4 linked regions of the Homo sapiens genome follow. The protein of the gene in region 1 interacts with the protein of each later gene in a biochemical or structural test. Each region holds a gene or a part of one and is shown on either strand. Other genes may lie near its edges. The genes, in order: FAM20C, ENAM, CALU and AMTN.

Region 1 (7,307 bases):
CAACTAATATCCAGAACCAGGAGTGGCCAGGGAAGCTGCTGGAGCGCTTAATAAAGTGCTGGCTCCAGGGAGACGTGAGAAGGGATTCCAGCAACGGCACCAAAGGTGGTCGATGGCCGCCTTGCAGCACAGAGCTCAGGGGCACTCCGGTGACCACCGTCCCTGGCCTGCTGAGGACCTGGGGATTCCAAGTGTCAGCCAACATGGGACATAGAGGTGACTTAATTCACCTGCTTGGACTAATAATCAACTCAGTCTTTTTTTTTTTTGAGACGGGGTCTCACTCTGTCACCCAGGCTGGAGTGCAGTGGTGCCCGATCATAGCTCACTGCAGCCTAGACCTGCTGGGCTCAAGCCATCCTCCTGCCTCAGCCTCCTGAGTTGCTGGAATCACAGATGCATGCCACCAGACCTGGCTAATTTTTCATTTTTTGTAGAGATGGGGTCTCGCTACGTTGTCCAGGCTGATCTTGAACTCCTGGGCTCAAGGGGTCCTCCCAGTACTGGGATTGCAGGCGTGTGAGCCACCGTGCCCGGCCACTCAGTGCAGGCGTGAGCCGCCGTGCCCGGCCACTCAGTGCAGCCGTGAGCCGCCGTGCCCGGCCACTCAGTGCAGGCGTGAGCCGCCGTGCCCGGCCACTCAGTAAGACCTTAGAAACGGGGAGGAAACGACCTGCCCCCACAGGCTCATTTTACAACAAAATGAGGAGTTCCGGAGATGCTGCTCTGAGCAGAGCCAGGCAGGGCATGTTCTCAGCATCAGTGGGCATCATTGACCCCTCCCTGCGTGACCCTGTGACCGTCTCTTTCAATCGGTCCTGAACCGAGAGCTTGGTCTGCAATGCAGAGAATGGAGTTTAAGCTGGAGGAATTCCCACAGTCACTGCATGGGGCGCTGGCACCTGAGGATGGGGAATGTCAGTCTTTGGAACCTTTGAAATACATCACCCTAAAAGTTGCAATAAAAATTGTAAAAAGACGTGGATAAGAAGCAGTCGGGCATCCAGGCATCACTGGAGCGGAGCCCAGCCTCCGTGGGCACCAGGGTGTGCATGGCGGGCTGCAGTGCGGTCAGTCCTGTGGACGGTGGGGCAGGAGGCGGTGGCTGGACAGTGCGGTCAGGGTCGACCCAAGGGCTGACAGCGGCCGGAGCTCAGGCGTGCTTAGGAAGCCCTGGACTCCCAGGGTGGGGAGGCGAGTTTCAGCCCCTTAAAAAAGATGGACAGCTCAAGCCATCCAAACAGGGACTGAATTGTCTGTGAGCCAATGCGTTCCCCATCACTGGAGGTGTGCCTGGCTCAGGCACAGCTGACCGGGGAGCCCTCAAAGACCCCCACGCTCAGGTTCTGCCTCTGCCCCGATTCCTGGTGTGTAGGGCCAGGCACCAGTGGGCCAGGGAAGGGAGCCCTTCTTCCCGCCTCTGTGGAGCTTTCTGTCCTATTTTTCTCTTATTAATGGGCTTTGAGAGGAAGAAAGCAAATGAGGATCTCGGTGAGCCCTGGCTGACGGAACGGAGCTTAATTAAATCATGGATTCGGGGGCCGGGTTCTGACAAATTCATGAATGCATTAAGAGAAAGCGCAGAGTCCGTACATCGATCTGAAACATCTGCAGGAAATGAGCTTTTAGGTCAAGGTTTTATGTGCCAGCAAATCTGAAGACGCAGCTAATCAGGGGCCCTAATTGGATTTTATCTGCATGAATTAAACAGATGGGCCAGGAGAGTGGCTGAGGCCCCCTACAGTGAGAGCCTCCGATCCGGAGGGCCCCTCCCCAGTGGGGACCTTGCTCTGCAGGGTTTCCTGGGGTGAGGGTCCCTTCATTCTGCAGGGCCCACCATCGCTGGGACCACTCTTGACCTTCAAGATGGAAACATAGGGGACCGAGTCCGGGACAGGTAGGAGAGTGTCCCCAGAGCTCAGCCAGGTGAGCATCGGAAATGGGAACAGGCTGTGCAGCAGGGGCCTGGTACCAGAGAGGCGCTTGGAGAGGAGGACTGAGCCCTCGGCAGAGCCACAAATGCCAGTTTCTTTTCTTTTCTTTTTTTTTGAGACAGGGTCTCACTCTGTTGCCCAGGCTGGAGTGCAGTGGTGCAACCCCCACTCACTGCAGCCGCCACCTCCTGGGCTCAAGCAATCCTCCTGCCTCAGCCTCCTGAGTAGCTGGGACCACAGATAAGCGCCACCACGGCTGGCTAATTTTTTAATTTCCTGTAGACAGGGGTCTCACCACGTTGCCCAGTCTGGTCTCAAACTCCTGAAATCAAGTGATCCTCCCACCTTGGCTTCCCAAAATGCTGAGATTACAGGCGTGAGCCACCACGCCCAGCCCAAATGTCAGGTTTAAAGCAACCTGGGTAGATAATTAAGTAGAAAATCATGTGTTTATGTGTGCGCTGTACTTATCACGTAGAGTCTTGAAGGTTTTATAAACCTCAGCACCAACAAAGACATCTATTCCTGCCTAACGTTCAGGCCATCCTGTATCCCCTCAAGGGCACCAGGGACCAGGGGCCTGGGCCAGCCCTGCTCACAGTCCAGCCACTTCGCCGAGGCGGGGGAGGCCGCCCACCCTGTTACTATACAACGGGGGTCCTGCTGAGTGTGTTTAAGTCCGAGTGGGGAGGTCCCATGGATGTTTGCTGGCTGGGCCACCTGGAGAAGGCTTCCTGGAGAGGCTAGGACCTCCCAAAAGTGAATCGTTTCACCAGTTAAAATAAACAAAGAAATGGAAGAAACAGTCTCTCTGTGCACAGAAGGACATTGGTTAAACCCTGATGGTGGCACCTTGAAGCTGTCCGTGGGCTGGCACTCCGGGTGTGGAAGGAGGCACAGGGCACCCCTGCGTGGGAGGTGGGTTGGGAACAGCACTGTGAGTCAGCACCCTGGTGTGGAAGGGGGCACAGGGCACGTGCCAGGCTACCTGGAGAGATGAATGCGGGCCCCCGTGCCAGGCTACGTGGAGAGATGAATGCGGGCCCCTGTGCCAGGCTACCTGGCGAGATGAATGTGGTCTCCCCGTGCCAGGCTACCTGGGGAGGTGAATGTGGGCTCCCCATGCCAGGCTACCTGGAGAGATGAATGCGGGCCCCCGTGCCAGGCTACCTGGAGAGGTGAATGTGGGCCCCCGTGCCAGGCTACCTGGCGAGATGAATGTGGGCTCCCCGTGCCAGGCTACCTGAAGAGATGAATGCGGCCCCCCGTGCCAGGCTACCTGGAGAGGTGAATGTGGGCCCCCGTGCCAGGCTACCTGGCGAGATGAATGTGGGCTCCCCGTGCCAGGCTACCTGGAGAGATGAATGCGGGCCCCCGTGCCAGGCTACCTGGAGAGATGAATGCGGGCCCCCGTGCCAGGCTACCTGGAGAGATGAAGAAGGTCCTCCAGAGCTTCTTGTCCCGTGTGACGTCCCGGATCTCCTTGGTCATGTTGACCATCCTGCCGGCCACGGGAGGGACCCGGCGGAAGTCCAGGATCCTGGCAAGAAACGGGCGGGGAATGGTCTGTGCTCTGTGCGGCTCAGCGGGCCTCTGTGTCCCTGCCTCCAAATAAGAACGGGGCAGGGGAGGGTCTGTGCTCTGTGCGGCTCAGCGGGCCTCTGTGTCCCTGCCTCCGAATAAACCCAGCCCTAGGTCCGGTGGCTCTGCCTGGCCCCACGGTGATGGGGGTGGGAGAGGCCCCTGAGGGACTGGGGCTGGCGATGCCTCACTGATGGGCACACAGCACCAACTGCCTGCATAGCTAAAGCCTGCCCTCATTCCAGGGCTAAATTTAAAACAAAATTAAATTAAAGGAGCCACTTTTAATGGAACTCCTTCTGAACCACACCACAGGCTCCCACTCGCTTAATTAAATGGAGAATGCAGGGCGAGAGCTTTTCTTGCTGACGGAGGACGTGGTGATTGTCCTGTGAGGCGAGGTGACCAGGTGTGGAGGGACGTGGGCCGTCTGCCAGGGCCGACCCGGGACCCAAGGCCCGACCACGCCTCTGCGTGGAGCACCCTCCCCCTCCACCTGTCAGACGGCTCGCCTGGGTGCTGGGCTCTGTGTCCTGTTTTATAAACAGGTGGACCCGAGGGGGGCTGTTTCCTAATGACCCTCCCCGTCTTTCTTTTCATAAAAAGCCCTTTTTGGGTTCAGGCTGTTCTAGATAGCTGAAATGGTGGAAAATCTGGCTTCTGGCGATTTCTATAGTCACCACAGAAGACTTTGATCTTTAAAAAAGCCCTTTAAACTCCAATGTACGCCCGCGTCACTAGGGATCTTGTTAAAATGCAGATTCTGTCCCAGGTCTGGGTGGAGCCCAGGACTCTGCATTCCAACTAGCCCAGGGCAACCCCAATGCTGCCGGCCCTGGGGCCGCACCCCAGGCTGGGACGTGTCAGGGCCGTGCAGGGCAGGCAGGGAGGCTCTGGGGGCTGAGGGTGGCGCCTCCTCCCTCCACTGCACCAGGGCAAGGTCCTTCAATCCACGGGGCCCCTCTGGACCTGGGCCAGGCCCGTTTACTGCCCTTGGAGGGCACTGAACACGGACCCCCCACTTTCCCAGCAGCAGGGCCAAGCTGACCCTCACAAGGGGTTCACTTTCTGCTGGGCTGGGGCGGCCCCTCTGGAGACAGGCGACCGTGGGGCCTCCCAGGCCCCCTCATCACAAACATCGCTTCCCCCTCCTTAGGAAGCCTGCTTTGGTCTCCCAGAGAAGCCTGTGCTCTGTGAGTCTCTGTGTTAAGATTCGCAGCACTTAATACTCCCCCTTCCCTCCCTGCCTCCTTCCCTCTTTCCTTTTCCTCTATTACCGACCGCACAGCAGCTTCTGTGCCTCCCATCTGCCTGAACTGTGGGGGTGCAGGAGGGGCCCATCTGGATTAAGGTGCCCTGAGGGCAGGCGCCCTCTCCCTCGGTGACAGAGGGATGATTAGGAGCGTGGGAACCTGGGCAAATCGCCGCTCACAGAGCCTCAGTTTCTCATCTGTAAAGGGGGATATGAAAGGCTCTCCCTACCGCGTGTTGTGTGGGCTACGATGACACAGAGGGCCCTGCTCAGGGCAGCACTCGGGGTGGGGGGAGAGCAGGCACCGGCGCTGCCTGATGGTGACAAAGGTGACGATGACATACAGGACCCTGCTCAGGGCAGCACTCGGGGTGGGGGGAGAGCAGGCACCGGCGCTGCCTGATGGTGACGAAGGTGACGATGACGTCCTGCTGTGTCCAGTGCAGGACGGCCTCACTCACCGGTGGGTCTGAGCGCACGGGAGCGCGGATGGAGGGAGGAAGGAAGGGCTCACCTGTCCAGGTGGAAGGCAGCAATCTCCGCATTGTGCCTCTCGTAGTCAGAGAAATAAAAAAAGTCAGGGGGTGTCTCCTGCTCCCTCGTTTGTCTGAGAAAACAAGACAGAAACAGAAACGGTTTGTCACTGAGAAAGCCTCCAGGGGCCGGAGGCAGGCGGGACGTGCTGGGTTCCTCATATGAAAAATGCGGTGGAGCTCCAGCCTCCTCAGGGCCACCCTGAGCCTTCGGGACCCTGGGCACCCAGCTGCCGACGGGCCCTCAGAGCAGCGCAGGCACGTGCGACGGAGGCCGGGGGTCCCAGCTCCCCGTGGCCCTGACCCAGCTGCCGACGGGCCCTCAGAGCAGCGCAGGCCCTTGCGACGGAGGCCGGAGGTCCCAGCTCCCCATGGGCCCTTCTCAGGTAAGCTGCTCAAAGGCCTCTCCTGCACTGGCTGGGGGCCCCGGCACGTCCACCCTGGGACCCACAGTCACACCGCAGGGGAGAGGCTGGGCTCGGTGTCCCAGGCCTGGCTCAGCCCCGGTTTGCTGTGTGCACCCTGGCACCGCCCACCCTCTGGTTTCCGAGTCTCCCCCACGGCCTCCAGGACCCCTTGGCTCTGCCGTGGACGCCTCCCACAGTAAGAGCCCAAGAAGGGCAATGTGGGCACCGCCCTGTCCCTCCACCCTGGCCAAGGGACAGGAGGCCACAGGTGGGGCTGTTTATGAAAGGTCAGTGCCATTCTGTAAACACCATAGGGCTCCTGTATCTCAGGCCAATACTCCAGGGGAAGGGGAGCCTAGCCGCAGGGCCCTGTGAGGTGCCGGTCCACGCAAGTGTTTGACCGATGTGGTCATGGTGGAAACGTGGAGGAATTGTCAAGGTCGTGTCTGAGCATAAGTGTGTAAGCGCGTAAGCGTGTAAGCGTGTAAGCATGCTTCCTCCACCAAGGCCGGCCCCTGCCATGCTTCCCCCACCAAGGCCGGCCCCTGCCTCCACTGGAGGGAGAGCCTGTCCCAGGGCGTCCACCCAGGCCAGGCCCAGGGAGGGAACTCAGCCTCCAACCCAGGCTTCCTCCACCAAGGCTGGCCCCTGCCTCCACTGGAAGGAGAGCCCGTCCCAGGATGTCCTCCCATGCCAGGCCCAGGGAGGGAACTCAGCCCCCAATCCAGGAAGAATTTACCAGATTCAAACTCTGGTGACCTTTCCAGGTGCTGGAAACCAGAGCTGGCGGGAATCCCCAGCTCGCACGCCCTGCAGCCCACACCTCCCACTCAGGGCAGACTGTGTTCCGTCTGGGCTCCAACACTCCAGCAATGCAGACTACAGACGCCGCCCCGGTCACTTTCCCAGCCCTCGGCTTCCCCGGCCGGGTCCTTCCTTCCATATACGCAGCGGAGGTCCGCCCAACTCCTGGGAGCATCCTGGCCCTGCCACGGGCCGACATCATCGCCACACGAACAGCGGGGTGGGGCACAGGTCCTGTATGTCATGTCCACGTCCCTTCGGGGGGACCACGTCTGGGTCACAGGCCGTCAATTACACACCAGCCCGTGGCTCCCGTCCTCCCACGCTGTTCTCAGAAAGCTGTGGCCACAATTCTCCGTGTTCCCGGAACGTTTCTTATGGGGGGTTAAAGATGTGTACCACCCACGGCCTTTTTAAGAACTAGTCTCTGCTGCTAGAAACTCTGAGAACAGACCACTTTCCACGATCCCACATAATATTCGCCTTGACAGGGCCCTGGGTAGGCGCAAGGCCAGATGAGGATTCCAGGAGCTACTTAAAAATAAAATGCGGATGGTGGGCTGGCGCCTGAAGGTCACATTTGCTTCATAACCCCACTGGGTCTGTGGCCATTGCTATCTCTGTGCACTTCTGAAACCAGCAGCAAAGGAGGGTTGGGGTGCAGGGCAGGGCAGTGGCAGGTATGGCGGCAAACTGAACATGCTGCCCGCCAGGGTCGCCCTGCAGAGCCGAGGCCCAGACTGGCCGGGATCCTGAGGTTCAAGAGAAAGAATCTAGACCTTGTGGAATCTCCCGG
Region 2 (7,307 bases), on another chromosome or scaffold:
CTGAGGTGGCTGGATCACTTGAGGCCAGGAGTTCGATACTAGTCTGGTCAACATGGTGAAATCCCATCTCTAAAAAAATACAAAGATTAGACGGGTGTGATGGCACACACCTGTAATCTCAGCTACTCGGGAGGCTGAGGTATGAGAACTGAATTGCTTGAATCCAGAAGGTGGAGGTTGCAGTGAGCCGAGATCGTGCCACTGCACTCCAGCCTGGATGACAGAGCGAGACTCTGTCTTACAAAAAAAAAAAAAAGAAAGAAAGAAAGAAAAGAAAGATAAGAAATTGGCAGTCATTGCAGGGACTGAGCAGAGGAGCAACAAGATGAGACTATTGTTTTCACAGGTTCACTCTGGCTGCCATGCTAATAATAGACTGTGGGAGATGAAAAGACTTACTTACAAAATGTATATATACATAATCTTAAAGCTGAAAGGGACCTCTTAGAGCAGGTAATGCCAACCTCTCTTTTGTTTGAGATAGTCTCGCTCTGTCACCCAGGCTGGAGTGCAGTGGTGCTATGGCTCACTGCAACCTCCACCCCCAAGGCTCAGGTGATCTCCCACCTGTCTCAAAAAAAAAAAAAAAAAAAAAAAAAAAGAACAATCTGTCGCCCACTCTCCAGTCAAGCTATTAAGTTACCACAGTTCACTGAGGACATATCACATATTTAGGGAAAAAGAAGTAAGCTCCAGGGGGGTGGGGTGCTATGCCACAATCACTAAAATGACTTTTTAGATGACATAGAGCTGGAATATTAAGAGTATATCACTCTGTGATATACATTTGGTTCTTCTCCTAGTGTGGTATAGTAAAAAGGCCATTGAGCAGAGTAACAGAAGACTTGGGTTCTGGGTTCAGTTTATCCAGTAACTTAAAAGTGAAATTGAGTAGTAATTGATCTTTTCTTGGCTTCAATTTATTTGTATTAATATAATCAGGAAGTTAGAGATCACTTAATTTCCTCTTGAGGATAACATTCTAAGAAACTCTTACTTCTTTCTCTGTTTATCACTGTCTGGAGTCCACCATCAATCTTTGGACCACTGGCTTGATTTGTTTAACTTTTTTATTTTCTAAAAATCACGGAAGCTTGAGCTACAGGTTCATGTGTTGGATTTTAACTTTCTTATTAGATGTGGATAAAAAAGCAGGGGCGAATGGATTGTAATTTCTAGTGGAGAATGTAGTTTTACTTGTACTTACCCCCCCTTCTTCATTGCTGATTGGTGGGCGTCCATAACCTGGTGGTGGTAACCTCTGAGAAGTGAAAAACACAGTGAACACAGGAGAAAACCACGTTCGATGCCGCCATTTGTTTGTAAGACTCAGGGTGTCTAAAAATAGCTCAAGTCAATGATTGAGCTCAGTTAGTACTCTGAGCTTTTAGCGTTTGAGTTATTAGCTCTCACAGTCCAGCTGCTAAGAATTATGATCTAACAGTGAATACTGGTAAATACAAAGGCTTCAGCTGGATCCTAGATTATCCTACTTAAAATACTCTGTATGGCTGCATCTGTTGGCAATCCTCCTTACCACCTCCAACACTCAAAAACATACCCTCCACAACCCCCAACAAACACACACCATGCACACACATACAGAGAGAGGGTGAGAGAGAGAAATTTGAGTGCTGTTAGAATCCAAGTATCCATATTAGAACATCTAATAATAGAGATTAAGTAACGATGTTATTTTTAGAATGTGGCTTCATGTTTAGGGGGACAAACTCCAAACTGACAATCCTTGAATTATTACTATGATATTTTTATTTGACTAAAGTTAATTCTCCTAATCAAACTTGGAGGCCGAGTTTCTGCTTCTCAAGTTTTATGTAGATGAGATTAATAGTTACTTCAGCATGAGAATCATGTTTATCTGTTTTTAAAATCTTTACCTTGTACTGCCTTAATTTCCTTAGTTCAGCATAGCCAGTAAAAGGAAGTCACTCTTTTAAGGAGGAAAAATGTAAGGAACTCTTACTCCTTAAAATGAATTGTTCCTCACTGATAAAAAGCCTTCTTGGTAATAGAGTTGTAGACAAGGAAAACCTATGTCATAGCTGAATGAACAGTCAACAAATATTTCCTGTTGTTTTGTTTGTTTAGCAGCAACTGGCCTTTAACATTTCTTTAGTTCAAAAAGTTTATTTTGCCATTCGTATTTTTAATGCCTATGATGCAATTTCAATATTATTTTTTATTTTAATGATTTTAAACGTTTAAGATTCTTTGAGGCTTCTTGTAAACAATATTTTGCAAGATCTCTTTTTTTTTTTTTTGAGACGGAGTCTCGCTCTGTCACCTAGGCTGGAGTGCAATGGCACGATCTCGGCTCACTGCAACCTCTGCTTCCTGGGTTCAAGTGAGTCTCCTGCCTCAGCTTCCTGAATATCTGGGATTACAGGTGCCTGCCATTATGCCCAGCTAATTTTTGTATTTTTAGTAGAGACGGGGTTTCACCTTGTTGGTCAGGCTGGTCTCGAACTCCTGACCTCAGGTGATCCGCCTGCCTCGGCTTCCCAAAGTGCTGGGATTACAGGCATGCACCACCATGCCTGGCAAATTTTTGTATTTTTAGTAGAGACGGGATTTCACCATGTTGGCCAGGCTGGTTTTGAGCTCCTGACCTCAAGTGATCACCCATCTCGGCCTCCCAAAGTGCTGGGATTACAGACGTGAGCCACCTTGCCCAGCCCCAAGATTCTTTATAATGATATATCTGTGGCTAGAAACAGTAAGATAGGATGAAAATGTCTAATCATAGCTCACCCTGTGGTTTTCAAACTCCATTTTGTCCTGTGTCCCAGTTTCCCCATTACATTAAATGAAGATAATTTGTGTGTTTTTTAAAAATTTCTTAAGGATGTGGGGAAATAGTAATGAAGTAGTGCAACCTTTTAAAATTAATTTATTAGCTAATTTATTAGTATCTGTTTGGTGATTTAGGTTGTATTTATGTCACCAATTTGTCTGAGTATGAAATTCAAAAAATTATTCTTTTTCTGCATGATTACTGATGCACTGGTTTTGTTTCATACCATCTACTGATTGGTATATGGTATTCCATTAGAATGTATGAATTTATATTAATTTAAATTATAACATACTAATATTATTTTTCACTTACAGTGTAAAGAAAAAAAAATTTCTCACCTGTGGAATTTGCCATGGTGGTTGTTGATAGGGGAATAGCCCATTTCCAAATGGTGGGAATGCCTAGAGAGAAAGAAAGAATCAGAGTGATGTGGTATTGAAAAGAATACATAAAAAAATGAAGGAAACTAACTAAATACAATTGAAACTTGGGAGTCTACATCTCCCTTTGCATTAAACTCTGTGTTTTTTATAGGGCAAAGACGATAATGATAATAACAATTAGTATCATTGGACACACATTCCAGGCTCTGTGCTGAGCATTTTATATTGTTAAACTCATTTCATCCTCATATAACCATAGAAGATATAAACTATTACTATTCCCATTTTACTAAGACCATGAAGTTCAGAGAAGTTTGGTCACTTGCCCAAAATCTCATTGCTCGTAAATCACTGAAGCCAGGATTCCAATCCAGGAGTGTCTTTTCATTCAATTTGGTACTCCCTATGTCTGTAATAGTGTCTGATAATAAGTGTTAACTGACCAAAAGCCAGTATTTTCTTTTTATTTTTTTGAGACAGAGTCTTGCTCTGTTGCCCAGGCTGGAGTGCAGTGGCGTGATCTTGGCTCATTGCAACCTCCACCTCCCGGGTTCAAGCGATTCTTCTGCCTCAGCCTCCTGAATAGCTGGGATTACAGGCACGCACCACCAAGCCCAGCTACTTTTTGTATTTTTAGTAGAGACAGGGTTTCACCATGTTGGCCAGGCTGGTCTTGAACTCCTGACCTCAGGTGATCCACCTACCTTGGCCTCCCAAAGTGTTGGGATTACAAGTGTGAGCCACCACGCCCGGCCTAAAAGCCAGTATTTTCGAAGCTCCCTCCACACTGGATGAGATCTTGAGAAACCATTTGCACATCTTCTTACCTTATGTCATACTAGTACTGGAAGCAATGTTAATTTAAGAGCAATATTTTAGAGCATCAAAGCACAGATTTGGATGAAACTTCGAAACTATTTAGTTTACTCATGGGGAAACTGGAACCTAGAAAGGTGAAGTAACTTGTTCAATAGCATACAACTAATAAGGACCAGGCATAGGACTTGAACCTTTGATTCTCGACTGTTAGATTAGTGCTCATATTATTACACCATGTTGTCTCTGTAATTTAAAAGGAGCTTTTAAAAGGCAACAGTATTTGGGTAATTTCAACCAAACAAGATTGGAGTCGACTTGCCATGCAGTTTTGGATGCATGTCAAAACAAACATTGGTATTGCAACAGAGTACCTGTATTGAAGTGTGTATATGGGGGTGGCATGGCCCTCCAAATCTCTCCGAGGCCATTTACAGATATGGAATTTTTCTGTGCAAGTCTCACCTGAGGGGGTTGAGCTTCCTCTTCGGGCTGAGGTTGATTATGTGATGGCTGCTTCAAAGGCCGCTTTTGTGGTGGCTTTTTTGACTGAGTCTGGTTGGGTTTCTGGGTTTCTTGGGTCTGATCAGTCTTGTTATGACGTTTGGGTGCTGAGGATTTCCGTGGATGCCATGTGTTGGGTGGTGGCTGAGGCCACATGGGCATCTGGTACTGTGGAAATTGCTGAGGGAGACCGTTTCCAAAGAAGGGCCCCAGGTGTGCCATCTGAAAGGGTAGCAAATAATAGTGAAATCATAATAGAGCTGTGATTCAGGCTGTCTCCATCCTCTAATGTCAGCCTCTAAAACTCAGCCAAAGAGCTTAAAAGTCCTGGAACTTGACTTAACTATGGAAGCTTCCAGATCTTTAGTTAGAATTTCCTTACACATTGTCTTACAGAATGAACTTCCGTCTTCTAGAAAGCCAAACAACCAAAACAAACCAAAAGGCAGAATTAGGTGGGAAATCTCAGTTTAAGAATTTGACTGATGATTTTCTAACTCTGAAACCCTAACTCAGGTCAGAAGTATACAAGTCAGGTTACAGAAGATTTAATGTCGTATTCAGAACCCATGTGATTTGTTATAAGGCTGGATGAAGAAGAGAAAAAACAAAAATAAGATAAAGGAAGTGAGACTGTAAACAAAAAATAAAAAACAAGAAAAAAAGGAAAAGAGAGGATAAAAATTCAGTCTGTGTAAACACACTTATATGGTGTCTATGGTTCTTGGTTACAGGTGGATCCTCATTAAATCCATTTTTTTATCAGAATCACCACAATTACAAAGTTGGGCAGGGAAGCAAAAGTAGTTATAATCTAAAAATGTTAATTTATAAATTTATGATAATTTATAAAAATGCTAATTTCTAAATTTATGATAATTTATGAATGATCAGTCTTGCAACATCAGTTCTCATTCAAATATTTCCTCCCTGGTTTAACACCTGTCTCTATACCCAGTCTTCATTAATTAGTCTCTTGCTATCTATTAGATGATGTACCCACGCTTTGTGGATTGATGAAATTCAAAATTGCAAATATTGCACTAAGACACAGGATTTCATGACAACTAAGTTGGTAAAAATTTCAAATCACAGGTAAAGTCACTAAAACTAAAAACAGGGGTATGAAAAAGTTGAGCCAATCAAAAGTTGAGGAAGAGGAAATTTACAATGATTATTTTAGGCAAAGAGCTTTAAAAGAGAATGACTTGGATAAAAAGGGTTACAAAAAAATGGATGTAGTCCTTGATTTTCCCCTCAAAATGGCCCTCATGATCATTCCATGGAAATCAAAAGTGATGTGTAGTGTTATTATGCTAACATACAATTTTATCAGAAAAATTGTGCCAAAGAACCACCTGATACTTGATTTGTCTGTTCTGACAATTAGCATACAGTGACAAGAATAACCTATATTTATTTAAATAACATAAAACTTGCTTCATAACTGTAGTGTTATCTTTCAAGATAATCCAAGTAAAACTTACCCCCCACCAATACTTACTATGTTATTTTTATTGTCATTATTTGTGACATCTTATGTGATATTTTCCCAGAACCATCTTTTCTTGACTATACATTTGAGACTCAGTCTCAAATAAATAACATTTCTCATTAATAATTATTTTGATTTACATGAAAGAACAATAGTAATGAATAAGAAGAAAATTTGGTGTGAGAGGATAGGGGCAATAATTTTTCCACCTTGAAACTTTTGTAATGATTACATTATACTTAAAACATGTGGATTGGTGTCTCTATTGACTAAGGCAAACTTTATAACGGAGTTATCTAGATAAACAAGAAATCATCAGAAATAACATAAAGAAAAACTTACATGTGGGCCGTTCATAAAGTTGAATTGATTATACCGCATCATCTGCAACCAAAGGAATCCATTAATGTGATACAAAGTGAAACTTTTATTAAATCAATGCACAAATCGTAAGAAATAAGTAAAATTTCTTTTTTTAACCTTAGAACTTCCCAGTGTAAAAATTTCTGATTTTAATGCACAACAGTCATATCACCTTTTCCTACTTATGCTTGAATTTTAAGAAAGTATACAATTAAAGAAGCTTCTCAGGCAGTTTAACTTTTAAGTCAGAATTTTATTTTGAGAATAATCAATAGAGAATCATAGAAAATAAAAGTCTGATCTACTGTAAAGTTTTTGAATGTTCTGTTCTATTCTTTTTGAGTTCAGGATTTGAGAACATGAGAATTATGTGACAAGATGATTCATCTTTCTGATATGTATTGAATTTGATTAATGATCTGGGATATGAGTCATGTGAAAGGTATTTCTATTTTTAAGCATCTACCTTCTAATAACCCTTGGTACAATTGGTCACTTTTGCTAGCTAAAAAACTTAGCAGATAAGGTAACATCAACTAGATTTTAACACAAATCCACATCTACCTTGAAAAGGAACACTGAAGTACATAGGTAGGCTGATGGCTGGGGAAATTACTACTTTGCCTCGATTTGAGAGTTTAAGACTTTCAAATCTCCCTCTTTTTACCTTTTTCATAAGAAATATTATATATGAGACAATTTTCCAATATTCTCCTTTTTAGTAAATGTGTAGGATAGGACTCTGGATAACTTCTCCTCTGAGACTGAACGTACATACCTCCTCACTTTTACTGCTAAATCCAGGCATTCGGGGCATGTGCATCTGGAAGTAAGAGAATGTCAGTGACAAATGCAGAACATCAGTTGAAATAAGCTCAACAATTGTTCCTAACGGAACACAAAGAGAAGAGCTAACATTTAAAAAATA
Region 3 (7,307 bases), about 130 Mb from region 1:
ATTTGGAATTAATGATAAATACAAAGCAAAGAGTAGGCTATTGGTGATCTAAACAAAATGGTGTGTAAATAAATCTCAGCTCCGACCTAGGCACTCACTTGCTGCCCAGAATGATTCTTCGGTGCTGTGTATGATTATGTGCATAAAAATCTGTTGAGAGCTCTGTTGCCTCACAAGGCAGATGATTCAACGTAATGGGTATTTCTGCTGCCTGAGACTGCATAAGCTGAAGCACTGGCTGGGAAGCAATGTCTTTATAAGGCATCTTTCCCCAGAGGCATGAGGGTGGACAGCACTGAGGGGGTCATGAGTCGGCTTAGAGAAGTGAGGAGTTTTTGTTACTGTGTGTTCTTGATTCAATTTGGAGTTCAGGTATAAATCATCATAGCTCTTAGTTAAAATCTGTCTCAATGAATCCGCTATCCATGAGAGAAAGGTTAACACTGTCTCTGCCACAAGGAAAATATGAAATACTGAGATCTACCCTGCCTATAGCAAAACTAGATCAAGAGCCTACCTAAAGCTGTATACAGGCCAGCTAGGGCCAAAACTGGTGCTTAGGATAAATACAGCATTCCAAGCAGAGCTATAGGAAAATAGGTTTTGTCATTAAAAATAAAGTTTTGGACAGGCACAGTGGCTTATGCCTATAATCCTAGCATTTTGGGAGGCCGAGGCAGAAAGGTTGCTTGAGTCCGGGAATTCGCGACCAGCCAGGGCAACAAAGCCAGACCCCGTCTTTACAAAAAAAATATTAAAAATTAGCCAGGAGTGGTAATACTTGTCAGTAGTCCTAGCTACTTGGGAGGCCGAAGCAGGAGGATTGCTTGAGCCCCAGAGTCCAAGACTGCATTGAGCTATGATTGCATTGCACTCCAGCCTGGGCCACACAGAACAAGGACCTGACTATAAATTAAAAAAAAAAAAAATTGTATCTTCCTGTTTCCCTCCTTATATATATATGTGCATGTTGCTATTAGGCTATTTGAGTCCAGTCACCATTTTTACCTTTTACCCCAAGGAGGGGAGGAGAGCACTTATGTAAGAATCTAGTCTTAAAGTATAAGTTGTCTTGTTATGTTTCTTATTTATGTTACATAGTCCTGAAACCTTGTTTAGAAGAGACACTTTAGTATCTGAGAAAGGCTTGTTTGCCTTACGTTCTCCATCTCAACCTATTATGGCTTTGAGTGTGTGTGTGTGTGTGTGTGTGTGTGTGTGTGTACACAGGATCCCAAAGCCTTATGACTCGTTAAGCTGTCTGACTGAATTTTTGACACTCAATAAAAAATGAAGCTTCAAAATGCTCAACTCTCAAAATAGTACAGTAGTTTTGTTTTTGTTTCTTTAAACTGTGCTTAAAGTATGGAAAGACTGAACAATCTCAAAGGTCAGCAGTAATGATGTTATTCTTAAAGGGGCCCTGTGGGTCTTTTTTATAAAAGCAGTGTCATATCCTTTTTATGTAATCAATATGTTGCAGGAACAATAATTTCTTACCATTAATGTGGTGTCTTTTACTTTTTAAAATATCTTCATGTCTGTTATCTTAATTTGGTTTATACAGGAACGCAGATTGAAAAAGAATTTTATTTTCTGCAGTTAACGCCACATTTTTTCAGCTTAAAAAACTAAATTTCACTTTTCTATATTCTTATATAGAGACTAGATAACTGCTGCTTGTGTAGCTCGATGTCATAACAGATGGGTAGTTCCAAATTCAATTTGGTTGTAATCTAAGGGTTTTTTTTTTTGTATACCTTTGTCAAGTTATTATTGACATAAAGTGAACTGTATGTATTTAAGTGCATAATTGATGAGTTTTGACGTATGTATTTACCAGTGAAACCACCACTGCAATCACGATAATGAGCATATCCATTACCCCCCCAACATTTCCTCATGTCCCTTGGTAATCCTTCTCATTCTCGCCATTCCCCCGTCCCTAGGCAATCACTCATCTGTTTTCTGTGACTCTAAGTTAGTTTGCATTTTCTAGAATTTTACGTAAATGGGGATGAACAATACCTGTCACTCTTGGTAGATTTCTGCGTTGACTGAAAAAAAACAGAATGTGACCTTCAAAGTGGTGGCATTCTATTGCTTGAATCCAAGTGTCCATTATGTGAGGTAGAAGGCCTTTGATTTCTATCTTTTTAATGAGATCCTAATGTTTAATAAAAGTAGCAATAACTGACATTTGTTGAAAGCCAACTATGTGCCAGGCATTGTTCTAAGCACTTAGATATATTTTCTCATTTAAACCTTACAACAATCCTATGAAGCCGGCACCATTGCTAGCTCCATTTTACAGATAAAAGAGACCAAGACACAGGCCAAACAGCTAGAAAATGGTAGAGTTCAAACTCAGGCAGTATGGGACTTGAGAGCCACCACTGCCTTCCAGATGTAACTAGAAAATTCAAGCCTTCTAGTAGCCTTAATACCAATAGTGAAGCATAACAGTGAGTTACATAGTTCAGGAGCCAGAGTTCCATGTGAACTTGGAGCTGACTCTGAGATCTGATGCCTGGAGCTGTAGCCCAAAACTAAATGTCTTTGTACTGCTGCAGTTTTACCTGTGTCATCAATTATTTCTTCCTTGCATGGTTTTATCTTTATTGGAAATTGATTTCCCACCCCACACATTTTCATGTTTTCTGAAAGTCTTTTAAGATTTGACCTAAATTTTTGTTTTCTAGATGATCCAGATCCTGATGATGGATTTAACTATAAACAGATGATGGTTAGAGATGAGCGGAGGTTTAAAATGGCAGACAAGGATGGAGACCTCATTGCCACCAAGGAGGAGTTCACAGCTTTCCTGCACCCTGAGGAGTATGACTACATGAAAGATATAGTAGTACAGGTGGGTGAGATGAAGGATTCTGAACAGGGACTCAGTTTCTCTTTTTGTGGCTTATTCTGTCTTTCCCCTTTAGCCTTATATAGCATATCTTATATATATATATGCTATATAGCATATCACTGTATATGCTATATAAGTATTGGCCAGATTCAGAATCCAAGGTCTGTCACTGTTTTTCTGTGACCTTGATCAAGGTGCCTTGGGCATTCTGTTTAGTATGATAATACCTTCTGTCATATAATGTATTTTGCCATTTCATTGGTAGCTTCATATTGTAAGAATGGGGGGAAATCCCATTATTTAAAATATCCCATGACCAATAGTCAGACATTGAGTAATAACAGTGATACTAAAGAACTCTCACAGAAGGCAGTTACTGACAACATAGACTATCTATAGCTAAACACATAATCACTGGTCACATCTCCTGTTAGTGTGACTTTAGCATGACTAAGGCTACCAGGTAGATCATCATGGGCTTGATGGGATAGTTTGTCATTAAGCAGTGTCAGTGTTCTGTCAGGAAGACTCAGTTATTTTAGATTGAAGCATAGGAAATTGCTCATGTTTTACCATTTCTTGGCTAGAAATGGTTTTAACCATACAGACACACATGCATACATACATACATACATACATACATGTACAAGTGTGTTTAATGAATAATAAATGTTTACCTAAACTAGATACTTTACTTTCTTCTGGCAAATTCAGAGACCAACTTAATAGTCTCTTCTTATTCTTTCCTGTTTAGGAAACAATGGAAGATATAGATAAGAATGCTGATGGTTTCATTGATCTAGAAGAGTATATTGGTAAGTCTCTGCTTTTAGTGTTTTTCTTAGAAAAGCTGAGAAGCTTTGAAAGGTGTATTTGCTGGCTGGGCACAGTGGCTCATGCCTGTAATCCCAACACTGGGAGGCCGAGGCGGGCAGATCACCTGAGGTCAGGAGTCCAAGTCCAGCCTGGCCAACATGGGGAAACCCCGTCTCTACTAAAAATACAAAAAAATTAGTTGGGTGTGGTGGCGGGCGCCTGTAATCCCAGCTACTCAGGAGGCTGAGGCAGAAGAATCGCTTGAACCCAGGAGGCGGAGGTTGCAGTGAGCCGAGAACACGCCATTGCACTCCAGCCTGGGCAACAAGAGTGAAACTGTCTCAAAAAAAGAAAGAAAGAAAGATGTATTTGCCCATAGAAACAATTTACTCCAAGGGTCAATTCTCACTAGCTCATTAGCTGTCACCAGATCATTAACCAGACCAGTGTGATAGTGGGTTGTGATAAAGTATCCGTAGCCACATTGCCCAATCAAAATATAAATGTGAGCCCCATATGTAATTTTAACTTTTCTAATAGCCACATTAAAAAGTAAAAAGAAACAGATGAAATTTCAGTAGTTATTTAACCTAATATTCTAAAACTCTATAATTTCCACTTAATGTAAATTATTGAGGGTTTTTTTTTAATACTTAAAGCACATCCCAGCCACATTTCAAGTGCTTAATAAGCACCTGTGGCTACCATCCTCAACAGCACAGATATAGTGTATCCTGCATGCTCTATGGAACTGATGGTAAAGAGTTGCAGGGGGCTGGGCACGGTGGCTCACGCCTGTAATCCCAGCACTTTGGGAGGCCGAGGCGGGCGGATCACAAGGTCAGGAGATCGAGACCATCCTGGCTAACACAGTGAAACCCTGTCTCTACTAAAAATACAAAAAATTAGCCGGGTGTAGTGGCAGGCGCCTGTAGTCCCAGCTACTGGGGACGCTGAGGCAGGAGAATGGCATGAACCCAGGAGGCAGAGCTTGCAGTAAGCTGAGATCATGCCACTGCACTCCAGCCGGGGCTACAGAGCGAGACTCCGTCTCAAACAAACAAACAAAAAAAAGAGTTGCAGGGAGCCCAGACTGACATAGGGAAACCCAGGGAAAGGAGATAGGGAATAGATTAAAAGATGGATAAATAAATGACGGGGAGTTGCTGATCCCTCTTGTAGCCATTCCTTTTTACTGTGTTCTGTTCATATTTTCTCTCTGATTCTCTGACTACTTTCCTTTTGTTTTTTAAGTTTCTCCCTTTTGACATTTCCCTTTTTAGTTGTCTAAATTTTTTTAAAAAAATTGTTTTGGATGTCACACCTTCAAGGCTAATTTCTCCCAAGTAAAGCTCTGTTTTATTATCATCAGACTAATTTTAAGATATTCTCATTGCTTTAAAAAAAAAAAGCTGTCTTTCTTACCAAGTAGTTGAGCAAATTGTTTCCCAATTACTGTGACAGAAATTAAAATGAGTAAAGGAGCTGGGTGTGGTGGCATACCCGGTTACTTGGGAGGCTGAGGCAGGAGGATCACTTGAGTCCAAGAGTCTGGACTATAGTCACAAGTTCATCATCAATATGGTGACCTCCTGGGAGCAGAGGATCACCAGGTTGCCTAAGGAGGAGTGAACCGGCCCGGGACAGAATCAGAGCAGGTCAAAACTGTGCTGATTAGTAGTGAGGTTGTGCCTGTGGATAGCAATTGTACTCCAACCTGAGCAACATAGCGAGACTCCATCTCTTTAGAAAAGTGAGTAAAGATGGAAAGTATAAGACTGTTACTACAAATGTCATTGTTACAAATACTTTGTTTAGAAAGATATTAGATATTTTAATATTTCACATACTTATTGTCATTTGTAATAACTTATTCTAGCACACCATTGGTTTTGTGTTTCAGATAAGCCCGTTTGTTTTTAGACCTCTGATAGTTACCTGAAATGTTTATTTGAAGCCTGAAAGGAAGACTTAATCCTTACCTCTATCACCTGTCATTAAACTGTATGGAGCAAGTCACTGCTTTACTTAGATGTTGTCTTATCATACCTGTTGTTTACATGCTAGAGTTATTCCAATTGAATTACTCCTTGACTGTTTACCTCCCTTTTCTTAGGTTCAGTGGCATACTTTGAACTTTTTAAAGAAGGATGAGCAATGGAAGATAGGATGGATGTTTTCCTAAACTGATTTTTTTTTTTTTTGGAGAAGTTTATCAGGACAGTGGATAAGTGCCTAGGTGCATTTACTGAGCCCACGTTGATGTTACTAGGGTTTTCTACTTTTAAATGATTTATCTTTTTATTCTTGGCTTTTGCCATTTTATTGCCATTGCTAAAACTGAGGAACTCATTTGAACCTCCCAAGGAGAGGAATTTTTATAACTGTTAACTACATCACTTATCAAGCATTGAGGCCAAATAAGGAGATATTTCTGTCTCCCTGTGTATCATATAGATTCAAGGGCAGAGGAGTTATATTTTGAAGCTACCAAAACTATCTTGTGCATGTGTGCTTTTTTTTTTTTTTTTTACAAGTCAGTAACTAATGCAAACACTTTTACATCTGGGATGCTGGGCTTTGTAAATCTAAAATTCTCCCAAACAGTATCTTTCAGCTTCTAGTGCCCTGTTGAAGGAGATCATGAAGAAACAAAGTTCTTCGCCTCATAAATTTAGCATTAAAAAGAAGCCCCATCAGTGCCTGTGGAAACATAGGGAAAGAAAAAAAAAAACACCCAAAGTTGTGCTGATAATTATTTTTATTTTTAAAATTTATTATAGAGCATTGCAGACGTACACAACTTATTTGTTTATTTATTTATGTTTTTTTTGAGACAGTCTTGCTCTGTCACCCAGGCTGGAGTGCAGTGGCGTGATCTCCACTCACTACAATCTCTGCCTCCCAGGTTCAGGCGATTCTTGTGCCTCAGCCTCCTGAGTAGTTGGGATTACAGGCATGCACCACCACACCTGGCTAATTTTTGTATTTTTAATAGAGGCGGGGTTTCACCATGTTGGCCAGGGTGATCTTGAACTCCTGGCCTCAAGTGATCTGACCACCTTAGCCTCCCAAAGTGCTGGGATTACAAGTGTGAGCCACTGCACCTGCCCCCAAATTAGAATAGTATAATGAATCCCCATGTACCTATGCCTAACCTCAACAACAATCAACTTACAGCCAGTTTTTTCTCAGCCACATCCACTTCCTTGCTTCCTTCTTACTTTGAAGTAAATCCCAATCATTATGTCATTTCATCTGTAAACATTGAGGTATATATGTCTAAAATATATATGTGTTTCTAAAAACATTTTTTTAAAGATAATGTCAACCCAAGAAAATTAATAATACCTTCAAATCATCAAATAGACTGAGTCTTTTAAAAATAGAAATTCGGCCGAGCATGGTGGCTCATGCCTGTAATCCCAACACTTTGGGAGGCTGAGGTGGGCGGATCACAAGGTCAGGAGTTAGACACCAGCCTGACCAACCTGGTGAAACCCCGTCTCTACTAAAAATATAAAAATTAGCCAGGTGTGGTGGCATGTGCCTGTGTAATCCCAGCTACTCAGGAGGCTGAGGCAGGAGAATCGCTTGAACCCAGGAGGCGGAGGTTGCAGTG
Region 4 (8,116 bases), on another chromosome or scaffold:
TCTCACAAAAAAAAAAAAAAAAAAAAAAAAAAAAAAAAAAAAGAGAGGTTGGTATTATCTGTTCTAGGAGGTCCCTTTCAGCTTTAAGATTATATATACATATATATACATAAAATACATATATATAATATATATAAATTTTGTAAGTAAGTCTTTTCATCTCCCACAATCTATTGTTAGTATAGTAGCCAGAGTGACCCTGTGAAAATGATGGTCTAATCTTGTTGCTTCTTTTCTCAGTCTCTGCAATGACTACCAATTTTTTTTCTTTTCTTTCTTTTCTTCTTCTTTTTTTTTTTTTTTTAAGTGGAGTCTTGTTCTGCTGTCCAGATTGGAGTGCAATGGAGTGATCTTGGCTCACTGCAACCTCCACCTCCCAGGTTCAAATGATTTTCCTGCCTCAGCCTCCTGAGTAGCTGGGATTACCGGTGCACACCACCACGTCCAGCTAATTTTTTGTATTTTTAGTAGGGACGGTGTTTCACCATATTGGTCAGGCTGGTCTTGAACTCCTGATCTCAAGTGATCCGCCTGCCTTGGCCCCCAAAGTGTTGGGATTACGGGCGTTAGCCACCGTGCCTGGCCAACGACTGTCAATTTCACTCAGAGTAAAAGCCAGAGACCCCACAGTGGTCTACAGGGCTCTGGGCCCCCAGTAGCTCTCTGATCTTTCCTACCTCATTTCCCCTCCCTCACTCTGCTCTGGCCATCCAGCCATTTTGCTGTTTCTGCAACAGGTAAAGTCCATTCCTGCTTCAGAATTTCACCTCCACCTGTTCCCTCTGTCTGGAATGTTCTTTCCCTGAACATTGGCTTTACTCTCTCACCTGTTTCTTTACTTGAATTTCCCTCTTATTGAGGCCAAACCTGACTGCTGTCCTGAACATGCAGCCTGCCCCTTCTCCACTGTGCACCACCAGCCTGCTCCATCTCACCCTGCTCTGGGATCTTTTTTTCATAGTGCTCACTATCTCCTAACCTGTCATGTGACCTACTGATTTAGACTGCTCACCATTTATCATTTATTTCCTTGCTAAAATATAGACTTCACTGTGGTTTATTCAATGATCCATCTCAAAAAGATAAATCCATGTCTGGCATATAGTAAGAACTCAATAAATAGTTGTTGAAGGAATAAAATCTTGTTTTCTTCTAGAGCCTTCACTTTCTGTAAATTTGATTTGTCTTGTATTTATTTCTTCTACTCATTGTGTTTTCCATCTGGTACCTATCCTCAAAATTTTGATCTACTGAAAATAATTGCTAGGCTGTTGTATGTGTCCACATTTGCAAATGGATTCACTCTTTTTACCTTTATGCTAACTCAATACATTCATTTACAAATAATAAAAAATACCTTGTCTATGTGTCGTGATGTTTCATTTGGTATTGTTTCCATACTGAATAGACATTTCAGTGTCGCCTCCCTGCTGCCCTGCCCCACTAGCTCTCTAGCTGCTCTCATTGTCTATTAGCAATCTGCTGTGGCCTGCACAGCCGGCCTGCTCCACCTCAGCCCACCTCACATGAGAGCTGCACTCCTGGAAAGTTTTGCTTGTTTTGAGTTTTCACCAATTATGTGGTAATTTAAATATACTAGAGAAACTATTTTGAAGAATCTTTCGGTCAATGTATTTGACGAAGTGAAAGAACCATTTGTTTTATAAAAAAATTAACTTCATACTTTACCTTGTTTAGAAAATTAAACTTTTACAGACAACTTCTTTCAAGGAGGACACACACACACAGACACACACACACACACACACGTATGTAGTATGTATTTGGGATAAAGTAAGAAGGAGGTTGGCTACCGTATCTTGCTTCATCCTCCCCCCGCATAATCCCACCCTGTTCATTTCCTTCACATAAATAATCACAGTTATTATTTATAATTTAACATTTCTTTAAAAATCATTTGAGTAAAAAATAAAAAAATTGGCAAGTGACATTGGTAAAAATAAAAAAAAAGTTAAAAAAAAAATTAATGTCTACAATCCTTGTGAACACCATGAAGGATTATGCCTTTTTTTCCCTTCTCACTATTGTTTCTTCAGCACCTAGCACAATGTCTGGCATATAGAAAGTTTTTAATAAATATTTGTTGATTGTACGAATGGATGCAGAAGTATTGAGTAAGCTTGAGGCCCAACTAAGTATGCTTTCTTTTATTCTGTTATTTCATAGCAAGTATATTGTAATTTTTTTCTTAATGGTCTTGAACCATCTTGAACAGTCAAAGAGAAGTCCACCTAGAGATCCAAACCATTCATCCCTATGTCTACAAAATAATGGAGTAAATGTTGGAGTTATAGGGCTTTTTAATTTTTTCCTGTTATATGTGAATACTATTTATGATTTAATGTTCTAAGTCAAAAATTTTGATCATTTTAATCATATGCCTTTGATATCATATGTTTTGGTGGTCTTTTTAGAATTTATACAATCTAGATATTTAGCATTTCCAAGTAGAAAAATTAGAAAATATAGTTCACCTCTTTATTCATGAGCAAATAACTAGTTGCCAAGAAAAAACTTCTTTTTGGAAAATAAAATAATCATCCACTTAACACATTCATTTTTCTCCTAATTTCTAGCCTATTGCTCTGCCAAAATAATTGACCTTTTACCACGATGGAGTGGATGCATTTAAAAAAATGCAAGTACATTGAAATATGTACCAACAGCTTATTAGCTTGTCATTTTCTGTCTTGGAAAATAAACACTGGACACTCTCAGGGAATGAGTCACAAAACAGAGCAGTTTTGATGGAGGGCAGGAGAGAGGTAGGTCTGCAGCTAGAGATGCTGTTGAAACTGGCTGGCATATAAAACAAACATAACATACTTACTGGTAATGACCGAGTTGATCCTAGAAGACAAAACAGTAGAATCGTACTCCTCATGTTTCAGATTGCTACCTACAACAACAAAAAAGTGTTACTCTTCCATGTATTTTTTTTCCTTTTAAGAGAAAATGATACTTTAAAAACAAAAGTTCTACTTGAAACATGGTCAATTAATGTTACCTTTGGGTCCACGAGGCAAAATGTACAATACTCAAGGTCCAGTTGGTTTCTCAAGTTTACTCTGGTGAAAAATTTTACCCTTCAATGATGTATGTGTTTGTAGAAGAAATTTAAACTCAGTTCCAGGAGATTGGAAACTGAGAGACCAATCAGGATTTAGCTGTCTGTTAAATCATTTGTTTTTTTTTCATTTCCCAACACTTCATTAGGTGGGTTATTAGCTGCAGACATTATGTTACCCAATGTCTACCATTTGAATAGAAGGTGTTTCAAGGAGACAGGCCTTATGTAATTAAAAAAAGATGCAGACAATAAAATAATTTAAATGCTTCTTCACCTCCTTCTTCTTCCCAAATGATTTCTCAGATGTACGTGTTTTATCATGTAAGTATGAATACATAAATCAAACATCAAAATATAGGGCTCTGTACAAGGTTTAAAAAATGAAGTCTACTATGTAGATTGCTCTGGAACTTATGTTTACTTAACAAATAATGGACAACTTTATGTGTTAGTACATACAGGTTTATTTTATTTATTTAATGGGTACACATCATTATATCACATTTTGATGAACATTTAATCCATTTCCAGTTTATTTTGTAATTACAAAGGTATCACAAGCACCATTCTTATAAAACCTTTTTTTCACACATATGGGAGTATTTTCGTAGGTGTTATTCTTAGAAGTAATGTATCAGAGGATATGTACATTTAAGTAATGTATCAGAGGATATGTACATTTAAGTAATGTATCAGAGGGTATGTACATTTAAGTAATGTATCAGAGGGTATGTACATTTAAGTAATGTATCAGAGGATATGTACATTTATGGCCAAATGGTGAATGGCTTGCTTTATATTAAACAGGGAAAATGATACTATAACCTAAGCAAAACACAGGGAATCAACTGAGATTTCTTTTACAAGAAGAACAGTTAAGTGCTACTTAACATTTTACCATGAAGCTGTGGGCTTCACCTGGAATTTTTGAGATATGCCCCAAAGGGAGGTGGAGGTCTGTTAATCAATTTCTGAGACCATTTCAATGATGAGCCTGTGTCGCACCAGGATTTGGGATTTGACCTTTAAAAAAGAAAAACAAAAAAAACCTATAGAGTGTCTATGAATGGAAAATTAACTGAGATGATACATTTTTTTTTCAAAGCTTCTCTCTAACTGTTCAATTAATCTATATAATCAATGTTTGTTACTCTGATACTCTGTTAGGAATGGGGAACATTATGTAGGAGGAGAAATACAAGATCAACAAGTATGTGCAAATATAGGAGTATTCAGGTGTAAGAAAGAGTGTGGTGAATTTTGTTGGGGGCAAAAGGACAGGAAAAGCTTAAAAGAGGAGATCATCCTTGAGTTTGGATTTGAAGAATAAAAAAAAAATTTATGAAGAACGCAAGGAGAGCACCCAGGCTGATCAAAGGTCTAGATTTGAAGTAGTGACATTGCTTTCTGTCACTGGAACAAGATGGGGTGAGGATAGCAGTGGAAGACAGGGTTGGAGATGATATCTAATTTTAACTACCTATAGCTTTTTTTGGTTTGTTTCTATCACTGATTTTGGCACTTGGTCAGATATTACTTTATATGGCTTTTTTATTATTTCTTGACTTTTTGTTTCTCTTGAACTAGATGGAGAGTTCCTGGGGCCGCATCTTATATTTCTTGTCTTTCATGTTTGTAATATTTTAAAGCATCATATGGTCATCGAATGTTGACGAATAAATGGTAAAGGCATATACTGTGGGGAAACAGAGCAAGATTGAGTTGAGGGAAGATTTTAGAGAAGAGATTGGGCTTTAGGTGGATTTGGAGAATAAGTATAATCCACAAGACAGACTAGCATGTTAAAGTGGCTGATAGTGAGAGGAGCAATGAGACATAGTGCTGAAGGATGTGGAAGGAAAGCAACTTTAGGTTCTCATGGGCTTTCACAGGCAAATTCATTGTTTCTTTTATTCAATCAATTCATTTTTCCAGCTCTCATTTAACATAGATTCACTCTTTGTTCACCAACATTGTGTCAGTGTCTGGGATAAAACAATTAATGGAAGGGACAAAAACCCTGCCCTTAAAGAGCTTAGGTTTTGTTGGGGGAATATGAAATATTCAACCAGGTCATTGCAAGAGAGGGACTCCGTGACACTGGGCATCTACTTTATTTGGGCATTATTTTCAGTGAATGTAGAGGGTTGGGAGCGTCATATATATATATATATATATATATATATACGTATATATATATATACGTATATATATACATGTATATATATACATATATATGTATATATATACGTATATATATATATACGTATATATATATATATATATATATTTTTTTTTTTTTTTTGGGTGGAGGTAGAGTTGAATTTTATGTCACTGTTGTTCTTGGCTTAGGTGAGGAGACCTGTGTTATAGTGTTAGTCTAGAATGTGGTTCTATTCAATAGTTTATTTGAATTGAATAATTCCTCGTGACTGGGCATCAGGTGATTTAGGGACCTCACAGTGAGTCAATTGCTTGTTGCAGACATGACTCCAACCCTCAGCGGGAATCGGACATGCCCTAGCCAGGAAACTGAGCAGTCAGTGGGATTAGATCAAAATAAACAAGCAAAATTAAAAACACTGAGTAATTTCTTAGGCAAGAAATTTTAAGTCTGAAAGCAGACAACTTGCAATAATGTGATTACGGAGTTGGGAGTCAAGAAATACATATTATAAAAGGAAAAGAATTCTTAAATCATTCCAAGACAAGGAGACATCAGCAAAAACAGTGAGATAATTTATGTTTCCAAAATGACATAGAACATCAGAATTCATTAAAGTGTTTTATGAACTATAGGACACATCTCTTAGCCCTTTAGTTCCAGGCATTCCTTAATCTTTCTTATTAGCTTTAGTTGTAAGTTTCTTTGGGTTATGGACCCTTTTGAGAAGCTGATTGAATGCACATGTCATCTCCTCAGAAAAATGCATATATGCTTATGAATGTAATGATTATGAAATAACTTCAGGGATTTCATGGATCTCCTGAGAGCCCAACTATAAAGAAACAGGTTAAAAATCTCTGGGTTAGAGGAGTCTTAGTGGAATTCCTTAGTGATTTGTGTCATCCCTGTGCTTTCTAGGATTTCTCAAGGCAAGAAACATACCCTCTCTCCAACTCCATCACACTCAATGGATATAGGAAGATCTAGGATTACCCAGACCTGAGGCACTCTTTATGAATCTCAGTCTAAGAGCATCTTTTTGACAATGAAAGGATAAAACAGACTGGAAATTTTCTATATTTCCTTACACCACTTGGTAACTCACAACATTAAAAGGATTCTGCGCACAAGATTATCATTAATTATAGTAATAGCTTGATTGAACAAATTAAGTACCTTGATAATTGTAAACGACATTCAGCATTTCTTGATGCATGGCAATCCCTGATACCTACTAAACAGAAGCCTCCACTGTACTGGACAAGGTATTGTACAAGGTGCTCGGGTACAAAAGTGAGTAAGAGGAAGCCCTTATTTATGTTCTTGTGGAAAATGCAGCAAGTCTCATATCACTATATAATGTGGTAGAGGCAAAATGGATGTATGCACAAGAGGCTAGAAAAGATGCATTTTGATCTTCTTTTTCTGCATTCGTTCATGTTATTTCCTCTGCCTGGAGTCCTCTTTTTCATCCTTGACTGTCAATGTTTTACTCACCCTTAAAGATCCTTCTTTATGCTACCACCTTCATGAAGCCTTTCTTTTTGTTCCTCTCATTTGGAGTTAGACTTTTCTTTCTCTGAGATGCTTTTGGAATTCATGACTTTGTTATTTATTTTATTCTACCTCACCTGATGCCATTGTTATTTGATTACTGTTTTGAGATATTAAATTTCAAGGAAGATTATATGTTTTGATATTTTCTTTAGCTCTCAGCTTGTATGTGATAGAACAATAAATATGGGTTGAATTGAATTGACTTGTTTGCCTTTATAAATTTACAAAAGTATTTAAAATTGTCAACCAGTCCCCAGAGGAAACCGGACTTACGCTTGGAGGCCAGAAGTAGAGCAACTTCTCTATGGAGTAGTTTAGTAGGTGCCCGAAAAACAGCCACTGAATTAAACATATCTGAAATTCTACTAAATAGATCAAACTATATAGGTTTTTACTAATCTTTTAAAGTTTTGCCAGAGGGGGTATCAGGAAACTATGTTCAGACTTCTTGGCAGATTGAATTGACCTTTGTCATAAGTGATAAAGTTCAGTGTACAATGTCATTACAAATGTGGCTATATTATACCGAATTTACTCATGAAATAGGGTTAAGCTTGCAAGAGTGTGGCAACTTTGTATTCTGTCCGTGTAGACATCTTTCTTTCTTTCTCTTTTTTTGAGACAATGTCTCCTTCTGTCTTCCAGGGTGGAGTGCAGTGTCGCTATCCTGGCTCTCCTGGCTCACTGCAGCCTGGACTTCCCCAGCTCAGGTGATTCTCCCACCTCAGCCTCCCAAGTAGCTGGACTACAGGTGCGCACCACCACATCTGGCTAATTTTCTGTAGAGACGGGTTTCATGTTGTTGCCCAGGCTGGTCTTGAACTTCTGGGTTTAAGCAATCCTCCCGCCTCAGCCTCCCAAAGTGTTGGGATTACAGGCATGAGCCACTGCACCTGGCCTATGTAGAAATATTTCAACTTAACAATAGAATTACACACTTATGGAATTAAAAAAAAAAAGCTTGGGTGTGATATTTAAAATAGGAAAGAACACCCTGCAAATGGGCAACAGATGAGGATGCTGAAGGGAAGGTAAGAGATACAGTACTAGTGTGAGGAATTAATTAATGATTTCAGTGTTTGGACGACAATATAACGCTTTAGGTAAGGGTAAGGAAGGTGCTGGGAATTTATGTTCTTTGAGTTGATACTGTCAATTGGGCAGTTACTTTCAGTTTTGTAGACACAATCGAGAAAATGTGTAGTTTCAAAGTCAAATGGAAGGTCAGTATGTATTTTGTGGTGTCATAAGAAGTTTCTGTGATTTCAAAGTTGGATGCCGAGTCAATGTATAGTTTGGTG

Evidence for each region.
Region 2: of the proteins of FAM20C (region 1) and ENAM, one has a biochemical effect on the other in vitro, tested with the Homo sapiens proteins (one study listed by IntAct).
Region 3: of the proteins of FAM20C (region 1) and CALU, one has a biochemical effect on the other in vitro, tested with the Homo sapiens proteins (one study listed by IntAct).
Region 4: of the proteins of FAM20C (region 1) and AMTN, one has a biochemical effect on the other in vitro, tested with the Homo sapiens proteins (one study listed by IntAct).

What each region holds. Positions count from the first base shown.
Region 1 is NC_000007.14:244,482-251,788, reverse strand, and holds part of FAM20C (extracellular serine/threonine protein kinase FAM20C precursor), read right to left. Parts: intron 5,375-7,307; coding exon 5,282-5,374; intron 3,475-5,281; coding exon 3,359-3,474; intron 1-3,358. UniProt on the Homo sapiens protein: Golgi serine/threonine protein kinase that phosphorylates secretory pathway proteins within Ser-x-Glu/pSer motifs and plays a key role in biomineralization of bones and teeth.
Region 2 is NC_000004.12:70,631,744-70,639,050, reverse strand, and holds part of ENAM (enamelin isoform 1 precursor), read right to left. Parts: intron 7,203-7,307; coding exon 7,158-7,202; intron 6,401-7,157; coding exon 6,359-6,400; intron 4,744-6,358; coding exon 4,483-4,743; intron 3,220-4,482; coding exon 3,157-3,219; intron 1,341-3,156; exon of another isoform or gene 1,262-1,340; coding exon 1,208-1,261; intron 1-1,207. UniProt on the Homo sapiens protein: Involved in the mineralization and structural organization of enamel. Involved in the extension of enamel during the secretory stage of dental enamel formation.
Region 3 is NC_000007.14:128,756,169-128,763,475, forward strand, and holds part of CALU (calumenin isoform a precursor), read left to right. Parts: intron 1-2,702; coding exon 2,703-2,869; intron 2,870-3,623; coding exon 3,624-3,684; intron 3,685-7,307. UniProt on the Homo sapiens protein: Involved in regulation of vitamin K-dependent carboxylation of multiple N-terminal glutamate residues. Seems to inhibit gamma-carboxylase GGCX. Binds 7 calcium ions with a low affinity.
Region 4 is NC_000004.12:70,513,567-70,521,682, reverse strand, and holds the start of AMTN (amelotin isoform 1 precursor), read right to left. Parts: upstream 3,115-8,116; 5' UTR 3,029-3,114; intron 2,921-3,028; 5' UTR 2,906-2,920; coding exon 2,852-2,905; intron 1-2,851. UniProt on the Homo sapiens protein: Is a promoter of calcium phosphate mineralization, playing a critical role in the formation of the compact, mineralized, aprismatic enamel surface layer during the maturation stage of amelogenesis.